Homo sapiens: one gene and its partners. The protein of the gene in region 1 purifies or fractionates together with the protein of each later gene. This does not show direct contact. Each region holds a gene or a part of one and is shown in the gene's direction. Other genes may lie near its edges.

What was found.
Region 2: the proteins of ZFAND2B (region 1) and PAAF1 purify together in Homo sapiens (affinity purification with mass spectrometry; 3 studies listed by BioGRID and IntAct, with this or other methods). This does not show direct contact.
Region 3: the proteins of ZFAND2B (region 1) and GLUL purify together in Homo sapiens (affinity purification with mass spectrometry; 3 studies listed by BioGRID and IntAct, with this or other methods). This does not show direct contact.

What each region holds. Positions count from the first base shown.
Region 1 is NC_000002.12:219,202,611-219,209,797, forward strand, and holds ZFAND2B (AN1-type zinc finger protein 2B), read left to right. Parts: upstream 1-4,171; 5' UTR 4,172-4,377; coding exon 4,378-4,432; intron 4,433-4,716; coding exon 4,717-4,811; intron 4,812-5,037; coding exon 5,038-5,169; intron 5,170-5,276; coding exon 5,277-5,428; intron 5,429-5,645; coding exon 5,646-5,738; intron 5,739-5,815; coding exon 5,816-5,876; intron 5,877-5,961; coding exon 5,962-6,029; intron 6,030-6,366; coding exon 6,367-6,439; intron 6,440-6,651; coding exon 6,652-6,696; coding exon of another isoform or gene 6,697-7,012; 3' UTR 7,013-7,038; downstream 7,039-7,187. UniProt on the Homo sapiens protein: Plays a role in protein homeostasis by regulating both the translocation and the ubiquitin-mediated proteasomal degradation of nascent proteins at the endoplasmic reticulum.
Region 2 is NC_000011.10:73,893,951-73,901,068, forward strand, and holds part of PAAF1 (proteasomal ATPase-associated factor 1), read left to right. Parts: intron 1-5,195; coding exon 5,196-5,294; intron 5,295-6,319; coding exon 6,320-6,470; intron 6,471-7,118. UniProt on the Homo sapiens protein: Inhibits proteasome 26S assembly and proteolytic activity by impairing the association of the 19S regulatory complex with the 20S core.
Region 3 is NC_000001.11:182,377,597-182,381,907, reverse strand, and holds the end of GLUL (glutamine synthetase), read left to right. Parts: 3' UTR 1-3,810; downstream 3,811-4,311. UniProt on the Homo sapiens protein: Glutamine synthetase that catalyzes the ATP-dependent conversion of glutamate and ammonia to glutamine.

The sequences.
Region 1 (7,187 bases):
TTTTTGGGAGGCAAATTTGTATGATGGAAAGAACATAGAACTGAAGACAATACAAAAATTTAGGTCCAGATTCTGACTTCGTAGCAAGTAATTTAATCTCTCTCAACTTCAGATTTTTTATCTGCAAAATGGGGATACATGATATCTTTTTCAAAAGATTTTCTTTCTTTTTTTTTTTTTTTTTTTGAGACAGAGTCTCACTCTGTTGCCCAAGCTGGAGTGCAGTGGCACAATCTCGGCTTACTGCAAGCTCCGCCTCCTGGGTTCACGCCATTCTCCTGCTTCAGCCTCCCGAGTAGCTGGGACCACAGGTGCCCGCCACCACGCCCAGCTAATTTTTTGTATTTTTAGTAGAGACAGGGTTTCACCGTGCTAGCCAGGATGGTCTCGATCTCCTGACCTTGTGATCTGCCCGCCTTGGCCTCCCAAAGTGCTGGGATTACAGGCGTGAGCCACCGTGCCCGGCCTACTTCAAAGGATTTTCACAGGGGATTAAATAAGCTAACACATGAGGAAGAGCAGGACACAACAATAAGTGCTAGTTTTTCTTTCCATTTCTTTTTTTTCCTGTTTCTTTATTAATTGAGACATAGTCTCGCTCTGTTGCCACCATGCCTGGCTGATTTTTGTATTTTTAGTAAAGACAGGGTTTCACCATGTTGGCCAGGGTGGTCTTGAACTCCTGGCTTCTGGTGATCTGCCCACCTCAGCCTCCCAAAGTGTTGGGATTATAGGCATGAGCCATCGTGCCTGGCCTTTTCCTTCCATTTCTATATGCACTGTTTCACTAAGAGTCAATTGAGAGGCGGAAAACCACTGAGACAAATACCATTAAACTAATATTCAAGTTGAATTGGAGCCAAGACACCTTTTCTGGCTATCCTCAGTTTGACCTTGTCTGCTTTAGACCTGCTAAAGCTAAAATAACTGGCGTCTGGCTATGACTATGCCTGCGAATTTTAGAGGAACCTATGTCTACTGTCCCAATGAGAGGCTGCAGCTCAGTTACCCACAGCTAAAGCGCAAGGCTGCTTAGCAGGTCTGTGTATGCTTTGTTGGTCTACAATAAAAGAGACTTAAGTAATGCTCAGTTGTTAATTGATATCTCCTAAAATAGCTAATTCAAGTTGCAAAATGTTATTTGATTTCTCTCTCAGTGTTCTCCTGGCTTCTTTTATTCAGGAAGCAAGGAGGCTACATTGGGGAATGGTGACTTTGGTTTGTGCGGGCACTCTTTTTAAATCGTGGGATGAGAACATCACCCAGTGAGAAAGCCCCTGGGCTGGTAATCAGCACAGAGAGCTTAGTCAGGACTATAACCCATCAGTCAGAAAAATATTTGCCTGGGAAGAGAGATACTACCGTGAGAGCTTCATTCACTTTTATCGTGGTCGCTGGGGTCTCTGAGGTAAGTCTGTTATGGCATGATATGGTCTGGATATGTGTCCCCTCCAAATCTCATGTTGAAATGTATTCCCGCCGGGCGCAGTGGCTCATGCCTGTAATTCCAGCACTTTGGGAGGCCGAGGCGGGCGGATCACGAGGTCAGGAGATCGAGACCATCCTGGCTAACACGGTGAAACCCCATCTCTCCTAAAAATACAAAAAATTAGCCGGGCGTGGTGGCATGCGCCTGTAATCCTAGCTACTTGGGAGGCTGAGGCAGGAGAATGGTATGAACCCGGGAGGCGGAGGTTGCAGTGAGCTGAGACTGTGCCACTGCACTCCAGCCTGGGCGACAGAGTGAGATTCTGTCTCAAAAAAGAAAAAAAAAAAAAAAAAAAGAAAAGAAAAAGAAATGTATTCCCAATGTCAGAGGTGGGACCTGGCAGGAGGTGATTGGAACCTGAGAGTGGACCCCTCATGAATGGCTTAGTGCCATCCTCTTGGTGATGAGTGAATTCTCACTCAGTTCACATCAGATCTGGTTTTGAAAAGACTCTGGGACCTCCCTCTTCTCTCTCTTGCTCCCACTCTTGCCATGTGACATGCCTGTTCCCCCTAGGCCTTCTGCAATGATTAGAAGCTTCCTGAGGCCTCACCAGAAGCTGAGCAGATGCTGGCACCATGCTTCCTATGCAGTCTGCAGAACCATGAATAAATTAAACCTCTTTCTTTATAAATCAACCAGCCTCAGATTTTTTTTTTTTTTTAAAGACAGGGTCTCACTTTGTTATCCAGCTGAAGCACAGTGGTACAATCATAGCTCACTGCAACTTCGAGCTCCTAGGCTCAAGCAATCCTCCCACCAAAGCCTCTCGAGTATTTGGGACAACGGGTGGATGCCACCATGCCCAGCTAACTTTTTAAAAATTTTTTTTGTAGAGAGGGAGGTCTTACTATGTTGCCCAGGCTGGTCTCAAACTCCTGGACTCGAGTGACCCTCCCACCTTGGCCTCCGAGGGATGGGATTACAGGCATGAGCCACCATGCCTAGCGAGGTATTTCTGTATAGCAACATAAGAACAAATGACTACATTTGCACTTCAAGCATTCTGGCTCATGCTCAAAAATGAGATCCGAAGATTTTTATTTTTTGAGTTCCACAAGGCTTTGGTTATCTGAGCATTTGTAAAGTGGGAGTGGGGAGAGAGGCAGTGTTTATCTTTGTTTAGTCTGCTCCATACACGTTTCTCCAAACTGAAAGCCTACAATTCTTTCTATTTTTGTAGAGACAGGGTCTCACTATGTTGCCCAGGCTGGAACTCCTAGGCTCAAGCGATCCTCCTGCGTCAGCCTCCCAAAGTGCTGAAATTACAAGCGTCAGCCACCATGCCGGGACTGGAAGCCTACAATTCTAAATTGTACTGATGAATATAGAGAGGAAAAAAAATGAATAAACAAAATTCTTAGAACCAAATGATTATAATGAGACTGGGAAAAAATTATTTGAAATCTGACAGTTATATATTGAAACAAAATAAAAGCATTTATAAAGTCCTGGATGCAATTTAAAATAAAAAGAATATTGGCTGGGAGTGGTGGCTCATGCCTGTAATCCCAGCACTTTGGGAGGCCGAGGCGGGCAGATCACGAGGTCAGGAGTTCGAGACCAGCCTGGGCAACATGGTGAAACGCCGTCTCTAAAAATACAAAAATTAGCTGGACGCAGTGGTGTGCACCTGTAGTCCCAACTACTTGGGAGGCTGAGGCAGGAGAATCGCTTGAACCCGGGAAGCAGAGGTTGCAGTGAGCCGAGATCATGCCACTGCACTCCAGCCTGGGTGACAAGAGTGACACTGTGTCTCAAAAAAAAAAAAATTATATTGGTCAGGTGTGGTGGCTCACGTCTGTAATCCCAGCACTTTGGGAGGCCAAGGCAGGAGGATCACTTAAGGCCAGGAGTTCGAGACCAATCTGGGCAACAAAGAGAGACCCCTCCCCAACCCCATTTCTACAAAATTAAAAATTAGCTGAGCACGGTGGCTTGTGCCTGTAGTCCTGGCTACATTCAATAATTACTAAGAATATTCTAGGCTAGGGTTTTTCAGAGTGTGGTGCATGGCAATCTGTGTCAGAATTCCTTCAGGTGCTTCCTACTGAATTAGAAGCTCCAGGGCCCGGAAATCCGCATTTTAAACTAGCTCCGTAGGCGATTTGGATTCACACTAAAGACTGAGGACCACACTGTTCTAGGCACTGTTAGGTGCTGGGACCTAACACGAAACAAGGTAGACGTGGTTCCTGATTTCCCAGTATGCTCATATAGGGGTTGGTCGCATTAGTGATATGGGTGCTAGAATGGAAGAAGTAAGATCACATAGCAGGTGCGCCTAGTTCAGACTGAGGAGGGATCTGCAGCTCTAGAGACGTCTGTACTTCAGAGAAATACAGGAGCTGTCAGCTCGTGGAGGCGAAGGGCAGCCGTGGCCGTGAACAAAATGGCCAGGAGGAGGGCATCGTGTGTGAAGCGGGCTAAGGACCGAATTGTGAAAGACCCCAAACCACCCAGCCTTCCATCCCCCAAGATATCCGTCTTTGCCTTCGCTGGCCTTCCTCTGCGGAGCTACGCCCGCGCCCAGGGTGGCGGAGCCGCGCATCAACACCCTCTCGCCTCGGGACAGTCTTCCGACTCAGCCTTCTAGAGCAAGGCGAGGCGGGGCGGGGCTCAACCGAGGCCCTCCCCGGCTGCCCGGAGACTGCGCCGGACGCGCCAGCCCTGCGGGATGACGTCAGCGCGCCGCGCGCGCCGAGGGAGGAGCGGGCGCCGGGGGCCGGCTGGCGCGGGGGCTCCGGTAACCCGGGCTGGGCGGGGGAGAGGAAGGGGCGGGGCAGGGAGCCCGCCAGAGTGCGGGGTCGCGGTGCGGACTTCGAGCACGAGCCCTAAAGACGCTCAGCACTCGTCGCTTCTCCTAGCAGACCCTGCCCGGCTTGGCGATGGAGTTTCCGGACCTCGGCGCTCACTGTTCGGAGCCGAGCTGTCAGCGCTTGGGTGAGGGGCGGAGCGCGCGGGGGGCGGGGCCCAGCGGACAGGGACTTTGAACCGCAGGTTGGGAGGGAAGGGTGGGCTCCCAGGCTGGCAATGCCGGGGGGCGGGGCTTGAAGCTGGGGGGGGGTGGTCAGCGGCAGAGGGGGCGTGGCCAAGGAGGTAATGGGCTTGGGAAGGGGCGGTGTGTCGAAAATAGGGTGGCGTTTTCCTTCCCGAGTGGAAGACTTGAGTGAGAGAGAAGGACATCGAGGTCCCGCTGGACCTGCAATCCGACCAACTCTTTGCAGATTTTCTGCCGCTTAAGTGTGATGCCTGCTCAGGCATCTTCTGCGCAGACCATGTGGCCTACGCCCAGCATCACTGTGGATCTGCTTACCAAAAGGTGAGGGGGCGATCCTCAGGGTGAAAGCAGGCAGATGGAGAATGCGTGCAGAATCCCCCAAATCTGTGTCTCACGTTTCTTCTCCCTTTTGTCCTTCTGAGGCTGTCAGTGCTGGGAAACACTGTTTTTTTGCGTGTTTGTGGTGGGTCATATCCAAGTTCTTTCAGGACCAGAGATTTGTTGGACTGGAGTGGGCCACAGACTGACCCTTGCTCCTTGACTACAGGATATCCAGGTACCTGTGTGCCCTCTCTGTAATGTGCCTGTGCCTGTGGCCAGAGGGGAGCCCCCTGACCGTGCTGTGGGAGAGCACATTGACAGAGACTGTCGCTCTGATCCAGCACAGCAAAAACGTAAGGTAAACATTGTAGGGGTCAGCCACAACCCAGCTGGGACTACGGATGCCTGGAAACCCAAACAGCTAATCAGAGTCTCAGCAGAGACAACCTTCTCACTTCACCTCAGATCTTCACCAATAAGTGTGAACGCGCTGGCTGCCGGCAGCGAGAAATGATGAAACTGACCTGTGAACGCTGTAGCCGAAACTTCTGCATCAAGCACCGGCATCCACTGGACCATGATTGCTCTGGGGAGGGGCACCCAACCAGCCGGGCAGGGTAATGGCAGCCAAGTCCTCCACTTGCTTTTGGGAAGCATTCTTTTGGAACTGACTCAAGCTCTGTTGTTATAAATTGGGGAGCTTCAACCCTACCCTGTCGGCTAGGGGAGTCTTTTAGCTTCCTTTTCAAGTGCATGTTTTTCCAGAACTCCCCTCCTGACTTCCTGGGTAAGGCTAGTTCTTGGAGACATGCCAAAAATCTCTCTTCCCTACAGACTTGCTGCCATCTCCAGAGCACAAGCTGTGGCTTCTACAAGCACTGTCCCCAGCCCAAGTCAAACCATGCCTTCCTGTACCTCTCCCAGCAGGTAGGCCTGCCCGTTTCCCTGCTCCCCCTTTTTCCCCTTCACACCTCTGACCTCCACCTCTTCAATGTCTGTCGTAGAGCCACAACCCGATCTCCGTCCTGGACAGCCCCTCCAGTGATTGCTTTGCAGAATGGCCTGGTGAGTTGGGCAGAGGTTGGATGGACAGAAACAAACACACAGAGAGTGAAGTCCAAGGACGCTGGTCTTCTTTCTCCCTTTGTAGAGTGAGGATGAAGCTCTGCAGCGGGCCCTGGAAATGTCCCTGGCAGAAACCAAACCCCAGGTTCCAAGGTACCTTACCCTCTTGTGAAAGAGAGCGCAAGCTGTGGGCAAGGGCTTGGTCTGGAGGCAGGTAGGTGGGACCACTCTGACACAATGCAAGATAATCGCTGGCAACTTGGTCTCAAAATTAAGATGAACTATATGATCTTTGACAAGTTATTTAACCCATGGAGCCTTCATTTCCTCTATAAAACGGGGACAATACTAATACCCACCTTGTAGTGTTGCTATGAAGATTGAGATAATCCTCAGCAGTGCTCAGCACCATGAGGCCCAACACACACAGATCAGATGTTCAAATTTCAGATCTTACCATCATCCAACTTAAACTGTTTCTCCCTCCCAGTTGTCAGGAGGAAGAAGACCTAGCTTTAGCACAAGCACTGTCAGCCAGTGAGGCAGAATACCAGCGGCAGCAGGTATGAGGCTGGGCTGAAGATATATGCTGCAGTGGAAGGGAGGAAGAAGTCAGGGATGGGGGTTCTTCCTAGTGGTGCAGAGTTTTGGAATGGTGGTTATCGTCTGGTTTTCAGTATGACTCCAGCCCATGCTGAGCTCTGAAATGAGGGCTGTCCCTCATTTCCTTGACGTTGCACTGTGTCTTCCCCTCCTTCCCCTCTCTTTGCTCTAGGCCCAGAGCCGCAGCTCGAAGCCGTCCAACTGCAGCCTGTGCTAGGGCCCTGGGCTTGGGGAGGGAGGTTCACCTGAGGAGGACTGTGGCCCTCACACCTCTAGGGTACACAGGGAGAGGAGGCCCGGAGCACCCTGGAGGGCAGAGACAAGCGGGAGTGATGTGGAGGTCGCCCTGGGAGCCTCTGGAAGGCCTTGCTAGTGCTCCAGCTGCATGGAAGAGAGCGGCTAGCAACTGTTCCCTGGTTGGGCCCTCAGTGGATGCTGGCCAGGCCCTACTCTTAGCCCCTTCATCATGTCATCTCCCTTATGCTGGAGCTGCCCCGATGTGGAGTGGGCAGGAAGGGGCCTGGAAAAAATAAAGGATCTTGGCAGTTGATAAAACGTACAAGTGGTGTGTTTCTCTCTCCTCTCTAACCTCAAACAGGAAAGCCGTGTCAAGAATGCTCATCTGACTTATGGGTAGAGGCCCGCTGCAGTACCCCATCCCACAAAGCCACAGTGATCCTCGCACAGTCCACATTTTTATTTCCCCAA
Region 2 (7,118 bases), on another chromosome or scaffold:
CGCCTGGCTTAAAAATTTTTATTCTTATTTTTTGTAGCGGTGGAGTCCTGCTCTGTTGCCCAGGCTGGTCTCAAACTCCTGACTTCAAGCAGTCCTCTCTCCTTGGCTTCCCAAAATGCTGGGATTATAGGTATAAGCCACTGTGCCTGGCCTTTATACATCATTTTTTATTATTTTCTGCTTTAACTGAGGGAGAAGGCAATTCACCTCTTGGGAGAGTTGGGAATGCCGCTCACCTTTTGAGAAGTAAGTCATTTTAAAAATCATTTACAGGCTAGGCACAGTGGCCCATGCCTGTACCCAGCACTCTGGGAGTCCAAGGCAGGAGGATCACTTGAGCCCAGGAGTTTGAGACCAGCCTAGGCAACATAGTGAGACCTTGTCTCTACAAAAAAATAAACAAAATAGGCTGGTTGTAGTGGCTCACACCTGTAATCCCATCACTTTGGGAGGCTGGGGTGGGCAGATCAATTGAGGCCAGGAATTCAAGACCAGCCTGGCCAACATAATGAAACCCCATCTCTACTAAAAATATAAAAATCGGAGGGAAGGGATAGCATTAGGAGATGTACCTAATGTTAAATGACGAGTTAATGGGTGCAGCACACCAGCATGGCACATGTATACATATGTAACTAACCTGCACATTGTGCACGTGTACCCTAAAACTTAAAGTATAATAATAAAAAAAAATCTACTAAAAAAAATAAAAATAAAAAAAAAATCAGCTGGGCATGGTGGCACACGCCTGTAATCCCAGCTACTCCGGAGGCTAAGGCACAAGAATCGCTTGAACCCAGGAGGCAGAGGTTGCAGTGAGCCGAGGTTGCGCCACTGCACTCCAGCCTGTGTTACTGAGCAAGACTCTGTCTCAAAAAATAAAATTAGCTGGATGTGGTAGTGTGTGCCTGTAGTCCCAGCTGCTCGAGAGGCTGGGATGGAAGGATTGCTTGAGCCTAGGAGGTCAGGGCTGCAGTGAGCTGTGATTGTGCCATTGCATTCCAGGCTGGGTGACAGAGTGAGACCATGTCTCAAAAACAAACATAACTGTGCTCCTTTTCTATTTCTTATTCTCTTTTTATTTGAGCTTACTGAAAGATGATTCATCCATTTATTAATCACCTACTATATTTCAGCCAGTCTTCTGGATACTGAATAAAATAAATAAAACTGCCCTTATAGATCTTACATGCTAGAGATGTGGGACTAGACGTGATTTGCTGATGACTTGGATGTTAAGTATGAGAGAAAAGGAGGAGTTGGGATGATTCAAAAAATTTTGGCCTGAGAAGTAGGTGAATTGTGTTCCATTTACTAATTGGAGGAGGAGGAGTTGTATTGGGATGGGGCAGGGGAAATAAAAGTTTTCTTTGGACATGTTCAGTTTGAGGTTTCCAGTCTAGCCTAGGTGTTCACTGCCTACCAGCAAGCAATTGGATAGATACCACCTGTATCAGGACAGAACCTGAAGTATGTTGCTTACAAGTAAAGGATCCACTACTAAGTTAGCAGTCCTTTTATTCCGAGGAAGCAAAATGAAGAAGAAAAGTCTTAGAAAATGTTAGAGTTGATGGATATATCCCTATAGTTCTTCCCAAACTTATTTATTATGGTTTAATTGACATAGAACAAAGTAAAATGGAAAGTTGGATAATTAAAGCCAAAGTCCCTACTTTTTTCTTAATAACTTATGTGGGAATTATTGTTGCTGGGAATGTGTCTGGAATTGCATATCTTGGTCCATCATTTCTGGAGCATTTGCAGCTGGTTGTTTTTTAATAAAAGTGTACATGTATGCATGTGTATAAAAGATTTGTTATTCTGATAATGGCTTATGCATGAAGTGATTGCTGATACTGAAATTACAAAAGTGAGGCTGGGCGCGGTGGCTCACGCCTGTGATCCTAGCACTTTGGGAGGCCAAGGCAGAAGGATAGCTTGAGCCCAGGAGTTCAAGACCACCCTGGGCAACATAGGGGGACCCCATCTCTCCAAAAAAAAGTTAAAAAATTAGCTGGACATGCCAGCCCATGTTTGTAATCTCAGCTATTGGGAAGCTCAGGCAGGAGGATCACTTGTTCCTGAGAGGCTAAGGCTGTAGTGAGTTGTAATCATGCCCCTGCACTTCAGCCTGAGCAACAGAGTGAGACCCTGTCTTTAAAAAAAACACAAAAACTATAAAAGTGAGTTTGGAAAACAAAAAGTGAATCTGAAATTTCTCTATTCTTTATTCTGAAAGATCTATATCTGTATATTTTCTATAGCTATACCTATATATAGGTATATGTGGAAATATCTGAACTCTTTTTTTTTTTTTTTACGATGTTTCTTTTTTTCTTTTTTTCTTTTTTATTTATTTTTTTTTTTATTGATCATTCTTGGGTGTTTCTCGCAGAGGGGGATTTGGCAGGGTCACAGGACAATAGTGGAGAGAAGGTCAGCAGATAAACAAGTGAACAAAGGTCTCTGGTTTTCCTAGGCAGAGGACCCTGCGGCCTTCCGCAGTGTTTGTGTCCCTGGGTACTTGAGATTAGGGAGTGGTGATGACTCTTAAGGAGCATGCTGCCTTCAAGCATCTGTTTAACAAAGCACATCTTGCACCGCCCTTAATCCATTCAACCCTGAGTGGATACAGCACATGTTTCAGAGAGCACAGGGTTGGGGGTAAGGTCACCGATCAACAGGATCCCAAGGCAGAAGAATTTTTCTTAGTACGGAACAAAATGAAAAGTCTCCCATGTCTACCTCTTTCTACACAGACACGGCAACCATCCGATTCTCAATCTTTTCCCCACCTTTCCCCCCTTTCTATTCTACAAAACCGCCATTGTCCTCATGGCCCGTTCTCAATGAGCTGTTGGGTACACCTCCCAGACGGGGTGGTGGCCGGGCAGAGGGGCTCCTCACTTCCCAGTAGGCGCGGCCAGGCAGAGGCGCCCCTCACCTCCCGGACGGGGCGGCTGGCCGGACGGGGGGGCTGACCCCCCAGACCTCCCTCCCCGACGGGGCGGCTGGCCGGGCGGGGGGGCTGACCCCCCCACCTCCCTCCTGGACGGGGCGGCTGGCCGGGCAGAGGGGCTCCTCACTTCCCAGTAGGGGCGGCCGGGCAGAGGCGCCCCTCACCTCCCAGACGGGGCGGCTGGCCGGGCAGAGTGGCTCCTCACTTCCCAGTAGGGGCGGCCGGGCAGAGGCGCCCCTCACCTCCCGGACGGGGCGGCTGGCCGTGCGGGGGGCTGACCCCCCCACCTCCCTCCCGGACGGGGCGGCTGGCCGGGCGGGGGGCTGACCCCCCCCACCTCCCTCCCGGACGGGGCGGCTGGCCGTGTGGGGGGCTGACCCCCCCACTTCCCTCCCGGACGAGGTGGCTGCCAGGCGGAGACGCTCCTCACTTCCCAGACGGGGTGGCTGCTGGGCGGAGGGGCTCCTCACTTCTCAGACGGGGTGGCTGCTGGGCGGAGGGGCTCCTCACTTCTCAGACGGGGCGGTTGCCAGGCAGAGGGTCTCCTCACTTCTCAGACGGGGCGGCCGGGCAGAGACGCTCCTCACATCCCGGACAGGGTGGCAGGGCAGAGGTGCTCCCCACATCTCAGACGATGGGCGGCCGGGCAGAGACGCTCCTCACTTCCCAGATGTGATGGCGGCCGGGAAGAGGCGCTCCTCACTTCCTAGATGGGATGGCGGCCGGGCAGAGAGGCTCCTCACTTTCCAGACTGGGCGGCCGGGCAGAGAGGCTCCTCACTTTCCAGACTGGGCAGCCAGGCAGAGGGGCTCCTCACATCCCAGAAGATGGGCGGCCAGGCAGAGATGCTCCTCACTTCCCAGACAGGGTGGCGGCCGGGCAGAGGCTGCAATCTCGGCACTTTGGGAGGCCAAGGCAGGCTGCTGGGAGGTGGAGGTTGTAGCGAGCCGAGATCACACCACTGCACTCCAGCCTGGGGCACCATTGAGCACTGAGTGAACGAGACTCCGTCTGCAATCCCGGCACCTCGGGAGGCCGAGGCTGGCGGATCACTCATGGTTAGGAGCTGCAGACCAGCCCAGCCAACACAGCGAATCCCCGTCTCCACCAAAAAAACACGAAAACCAGTCAGGCGTGGCGGCGCGCGCCTGCAATTGCAGGCACTCGGCAAGCTGAGGCAGGAGAATCAGGCAGGGAGGTTGCAGTGAGCTGAGATGGCAGCAGTACCGTCCAGCTGGGCATCAGAGGGAGACCGTGGAAAGAGAGGGAGAGGGAGACCGTGGGGAGAGGGAGGGGGAGGGGAAGGGGGAGGGAGAGGGAGAGGGAGAGGGAGAGGGAGAAGGAGAGGGAGAGGGAGAGGAATAGCTGAACTCTTGAATCCTCCTGGTGCATCTTAGAACATTATCTTTTGTGTAAGTGGGTTCCTAAGAATTAGGAGAGGTATCTTAATTTTCTTTTTATTTTTTATATTTACTTTAAAATTTTTTGTAGAGATGGAGTCTCATTATATTGCCCAGGCTGGTCTCGAACTCCTGGGCTCAAGTAATCTTCCTGCCTTGGCCTCCCAGAGTGTTGGGATTACACAGGTGTGAGCCACTGCACCTGGTCTTAATTTTAAAATAAAATAGCAGGGCTGGGCACGGTGGCCTATAATCCCAGCACTCTGGGAGGCTGAGATGGGAGAATCACTTGAGCTCAGGAGTTTGAGACTAACTTGGGCAACATGGTGAAACTCTGTCTCTACCGAAAAATACAGAAATAAGGCACAGTGGTGTGCGCCTGTAGTCCCAGCTACTCGGGAGGCTGAGGCAGGAGAATCACTTGAGCCTGGGAGGCAGAGGTTGCAGTGAGCTGAGATGGGGACATTGCACTCCAGCCTGGGTGATGGGAGTGAAACTCTGTCAAACAAACAAACAAACAAACAAATAAATAAATGCAACACATGGAAACTATGGAAATGAAATGGGGATAGGGAAAACTTTTTAGCTGAAGCATTAGACTTCAGATGATTAGAGGAATATCTTTTTGTTTGAAGAAGTAAAAGGTGTTTACTTCAGCCTTGTTGGGAGGTTGGTGATGATAACTCAACCTTTACATCAAACACAAGTCCTTTTGTTGGGAAACACAGGCTTCAGGAAGTCTTGGAAGAGTGAAAAAAGGGAAGTTTATAACATATTTCAAGGGAATAAGAGTATTTCATTATTTCTAACACATTGTTTGTTTTCTCTTTGAACAGATAACATGCCTGGACATTTCCAGCAGAGGAGGTCTTGGTGTGTCTTCTAGTACTGACGGGACCATGAAAATCTGGCAGGCTTCCAATGGAGAACTCAGGGTAAAGGATTTGGATGTACTTTTAGGTCTTAAACACAAAGGGTGGTCTGAGAAGCCTTGGACTGGGACATGGAAGGAAGAATGGCCCATTCTAAAAATGTGGGACCACTCTGCATGTCAGTTGATCTCTTTTCTCCCATTTGTGTGTTTCTTTTTCTTTTTCTCTTTTTTTTTTTTTTTTTTTTTTTGAGACAGTCTTGCTGTGTTGCCCAGGCTGGAGTGCAGTGGTGTGATCTCAGCTCACTGCAACCTCCGCCTCCTGGGTTCAAGCGATTCTTGTGCCTCAGCCTCCCAAGTAGCTGAGATTACAGGCATGTGCCACCACACACATCTAATTTTTGTATTTTTAGTAGAGATGGGCTTTCGCCATGTCGGCCAGGCTGGTTTCCAACTCCTCACGTCAAGTGATCTGCCCACCTTGGCCTCCCAAAGTGCTGGGATTACAGGTGTGAGCCACCGCTCCTGGCCTCTCAGCTGTCAATTCGAGAACCTTTCTCAAGCTCAGTGATTTGGCAGAACAGAGTGGGGCTGGAGCAGTTAAGGAGCCAGACCAGTGAAGGTCTAAGTGGGTGTGCCCTTGTTTTTTAATTGCCTTCAGTGATCCATTTCCAAGACAGAATAGCTTGGCTGTTAGACTGAATCTATGGCTGAGCCTCCAACCTTTACAAAGGATTTTAAACAGAGATGAGTGAAAAAGTCCCCAAGCCACCTCAGCTCTTTAACTAGATCTAGAGATGGCTGTGAAAGCCATGGAATTCTTTTTTTTTTTTTTTAACCTAGGCTCTGGGGTGTTTTTACATGGAATTCAGTTCTATAACCTCTATAGCTGAATTCGAGGAAACACCTTTTAGAACACTGCCTGCTAGACAAATGAGCTAAGAGATCCTTTGGATATCCTTAGTTTTAAAACCCAGCATGTGGGTTTAGCATGTAGGTATTTCATATAAGGGACCAGAGTATGGGAGGTAAGAGAACATCAAGGGATGGACAAGAGAACTAGCATGGAATTTTCTTTTGTTTTTCCAGAGAGTATTGGAAGGACATGTGTTTGATGTGAATTGTTGCAGGTTTTTCCCATCAGGCCTTGTGGTCCTGAGTGGGGGAATGGATGCCCAGCTGAAGATATGGTCAGCTGAAGATGCTAGCTGCGTGGTGACCTTCAAAGGTCACAAAGGAGGTATGAAGTGTGCTTTCTCCAAAAGGCTTCTCTAATGATCCCCAGAAATGAATCACTGAAAAGGTAGAAACAAGCTAGTTTATTCACAAATACACAAATAATCCATCCAGCTGGGCATTTAGATGAGCTGCCATTTCCCTAAGGACCAGAAATTCCTTTGCCACACAGTCTTTTTATTGCTATCTTGAACTGTCTTACACAGTTGGTTTGATACCTAAAGCCTTTTCCAGCTGGGTGCAGTGGTGCATGCCTGTAATCCCAGCTTTAAAAGTTGTTTTCTGGCCGGGCGCGGTGGCTCACGCCTGTAATCCCAGCACTTTGGGAGGCCGAGGCGGGCGGATCACGAGGTCAGGAGATGGAGACCATCCCGGCTAAAACGGTGAAACCCCGTCTCTACTAAAAATACAAAAAATTAGCCGGGCGTAGTGGCGGGCGCCTGTAGTCCCAGCTACTTGGGAGGCTGAGGCAGGAGAATGGCGTGAACCCGGGAGGCGGAGCTTGCAGTGAGCCGAGATCCCGCCACTGCACTCCAACCTGGGCGACAGAGCGAGACTCCGTCTCAAAAAAAAAAAAAAAAAAAAAAAAAAAAAAAAAGTTGTTTTCTACAATTGATAAAGGAAAAAAAAAATCCTCTCCAGGAAATCGTAT
Region 3 (4,311 bases), on another chromosome or scaffold:
GTTTCAGCATGATTGTTGAGTACCCTGTTTCATCCTTAGCATTTTCTTGATTTTGTTGTTAAATGATGTATACCCTTATTTCCATTGAATCTGTGCTTCCACCCCCCCAACTGAAGTTGTCTTCCCTTTGCTTGGCCACCCTTACAGCCTCTTGGATGGTGTATCCTACAGTGTAAGCACTAAACTGAAGAGGCAGTGACCTGAGCACTTTGGATTTTGTTCATTGTAATCAATTCCATGACAAAATGATTGCATGAGAAGGAATTTTAAATTCATAGGATCAGAATTTAGGTGAAAACAACCAGCATATTTGTTTCTTCACCCTCTCACCTAGAATTAGCTTTGACCTACAGGTCACAGTGCAATCCCCTTGTATTTCTAAGGTGTTTTTTATAGTTCATTTGCAGACAATGGGTTATGTGATAACTTTTATCAGTGATAGATTAAACAGAATAATGACCAAGCTTTCAACCTTAAGGAGTCAGGCCAGTATTTACAAAAGGAGGTCTCCATGAACTCCTTAAATATGAGTTCCCCTAATATCATCTTGCCAGGTACTAAATAACAACTGATAGCACAAGCTATAGGGAATTTGAAAGAATTCCATGGATGGGTGTTGTCTAGGGCCTTTTGTTGTTTTTGAGACGGGGTCTGACTCTCACCCAGGCTGGAGTATAGTGTGGCGCAATCTTGGCTCACTGCAACTTCTGCCTCCCAGATTCAAGCGATTCTCCTGCCTCAGCCTCCCAAGTAGCTGAGACTACAGGTGTGCACCACCATGCTCAGCTAATTTTTGTATTTTTAGTACAGATGGGGTTTCACCATGTTGGCCAGGCTGGTCTTGAACTCCTGATCTCCCAAAGTGAGGTCTTGAACTGGTCTTGAACTCCTCCACCTCCCAAAGTGCTGGGATTACAGGCGTGAGCCACTGCACCCGGCCTAGGGCCATGTAAAAAGCCAGATCTGTGCTGCTGTCTGTGTAGAAGGGTAGACAAGTGGATGAGAAGTTCCTGAACTATTCTTGGCCCTTTTACCACTAAGTGAAAGTAACTTGCTGCCCCAAAGAAAGATGTCTCATCATTCGACAGGACTTTCTAGTTGAACTTCATGAAAGCAAGAGATCCTGTTTTTCTTGCTCACCACTGTATCTTGAGACCTGTTGTAGTGCCTGCAATACTTATTTAATAAGTTATTTTTAAGTATCAGTTTTGTGAGCTTTAACTCTATGAGGTCTTTGTTGTTTGACTGTATTTTAACTCTGGCCATGACAGCAAGACAAAGTTCCATTTTTATTGAGCTTAAAAAGAATCAAGGCCAGGTGAAGTGGCTTACGCCTGTGATCCCAACACTTTGTGAGGCTGCAGCAGGAGGATCTCTTGAGCCCAGGAGTTTGAGACCGTTCTAGGCAATGTAGTGAGGTCCAGACTCCACAAAATAATTTTTTTTTAAATTGCACGCCTGTAGTCTCAGCTATCAGGAGGCTGAGATGGGAGGATGACTTGAGCCCAGGAAATTGAAGCTGCAGTGAATTGTGATTGCACCACTGCACTCCAGCCTGGGTGACAGATCAAGACCTTGCCTAAACAAAACAAAACAAACAAAACCCCAAAAAACAAATTGAAAATGTTGATTCTTTTTACTACAAACATTATGGCAGCACTAAAAACTTCGTGGGAGTGTACTGTGGAAAATAGTGTACTTAATTAATTCTCATTGTAATCAGGCTACCAAGAGCCTTGTGTTGCTTTAAGAGTTATAACTGCCAGGCACAGTGGCTCATGCCTATAATCCCAGCACCTTGAGAGGCCGAGGCAGGTGGATCACCTGAGATCGGGAGTTTGAGACCAGCCGGGCCAATATGGTGAAACAAGCTGTGTCTCTACTAAATACAAAAAATTAGCCGGGCGTGGTGGCACATGCCTGTAATCCCAGCTGCTTGGGAGACTGAGACAGGAGAATTGCTTGAACCTGGAAGGCGGAGGTTGCAGTGAGCTGAGATTGCAACATTGTACTCCAGCCTGGGCAACAAGAGGGAAACTCCATCTCAAAAAAAAAAAAAAAGTTGTAACTGAGGCTGGGCATGGTGGCTCATACCTGTAATCCCAGCACTTTGAAAAGCCGAGGCAGGTAGATCACTTGAGCTCAGAAGTTCGAGACTAGCCTGGGCAACATGACAAAACCCCATCTCTACAAAAAATACGAAAAATTAGCTGGGCGTGGTGGCATGCACCTGTAGTCCTAGCTACCTGGGAGGCTGAGGTGGGAAGATTACTTGAAGCTGCAGTGAGCCATGGTTGTGCCACTGCCCTCCAGTCTGGGCAACAAAGTGAGACCCTGTCTCAAAAAAACAAAAAAAAATTATAACTGATGTAAACTGGCAGTTTAGGCTGGGTGTGGTGGCTCAAGCCTGTAATCCTAGCACTTTGGGAGGCCAAGGCAGGTGGATCACCTGAGTTCAGGAGTTCGAGACCAGCGTGGCCAACATGGTGAAACCTTGTCTCTATTAAAAATACCAAAATTAGCAAGATGTGGTGGTGGGTGCCTATAATTCCAGCTACTCAGGAGGCTGAGGCAGGAGGATCGCTGGAGCCAGGGAGGCAGAGGTTACAGTAAGCAAAGATCACTCCACTTCACTCCAGCCTGGGCAAAAGAGTGAGACATATCAAAAAATAAACAAATAAATAAATAAATAAGTGGCAGTTCATCATTTAACTCCAAAGACTTTGCGTACATTTCTACTGAAAACAATCTGAGCTGATTAGAACCCTGCCATTTTATAGCCTTTAGCTCGATCTCCGACCGTTCATTTAAAAAAATTCTACTTCAGGCCGGGCATGGTGGCTCAAGCCTGTAATCCCATCACTGTAGGAGGCCAAAGTGGGCAGATCACTTAAGGTCAGGAGTTTGAGACCAGCCTGGCCACCATGGTGAAACCCCATCTCTACTAAAAATACAAAAATTAGCCGGGCTTGGTGGTGAGCACCTGTAATCCCACCCTGCCGAGTGGCAGGCTGAGGCAGGAGAATCGCTTGAGCCCAAGAGCCGGAGGTTGCAGTGAGCCAAGCTTGCACCATTGCACTCCAGCCTAGGCAACAGAGTGTGACTCCATCTCAAGAAAAAAAAAATTCTATTTCATTTTACAATATGCAGATATATGTCCATACACATGCATAATATAAATGTATACCATATTTGTGAGAATATGCATATATGTACACATTAGATACACAATACAAGCACAATACATATGTCTTTTGCCCAAGATACAGCATTTTGTAAAGGAGACAGGAATTTAGTAATATATGTTCCAGAAACAGTACACAAGAGAATTCGCCGAGATGAGAAAGTTGTCACTAGGAATGGGGAGTGGTAAGATGTAGAAGGTATAATTGTTCTTAAAGTTCTACTGCCAACTCTTTCCAATTAATTACCCACTCTGCCATGCTTTATGGACAGGAGGTTGTCGGACACTGTCAATTAATAAATATTTGAGCATGATACACTGCTTGGAGCTCCTCTAATATAGGAGAGTGATATCCTAGTGCATGTTACAGAGGGAGTGTCCACACAGTTCCTATTGTCATTTGATGAGTTACTTTTCAGGGGCCTTGTACCTGAGCAAGTTGTCCTCTTTTTGATGGATTTCAGATTGAGTTACCTGCATTGTCTTGAGATTGCAGCGTGTTTCCTCCACTGTACGGCGTAGTCAGCAGATCTATTAGTTAAACTCCAGTGGGCCCTCAGTCACTAAATCTATCCTCTGTGTTGAAGGCTTTCTGCATTTGCCTTTCAATAAAGGTTTAGAATAACTCCTTCTCTGTGACTCTGTTTTACTCCTCTATTGACAGTAAATTGAATCAGCATTTAAGATGTGAAAAAATTAATAATCAAATGAAATGGGGGTCAAATAGGCACTAGTTTGGTGTGTTGGGGAAAGCATATGAATGAGGGGTGGTCAAGTGAATGGTCAAGTCTCCTTTATGACCCTCCTTTTATAGCTAAAGGTTGTCACTGGCAGCACCAAAAGGAAGGGGACTCCTGGGCCCATTGCTATGTATCCCAGTTTATTCTCAAATGATTTTGTGAGCTGTTTTGGTAACTGTTTAAATAAGGCTACAGAATGAAATGTAGTATCACATTGTGGGAGGAGAGGGAAAAGGATTCCTTTTTTCGTTTTTTGGAAGAAGTGAACACTTGCCTGGACTCTGGGAAGGAACCTGTGATCTAATTAGCTAAATTTAGAGAGACAGTACAGTAAGAGAATGCACTTTTCCAGAGCTTCCTTTGCAAGAGAGGATCCATCTCTTCAAA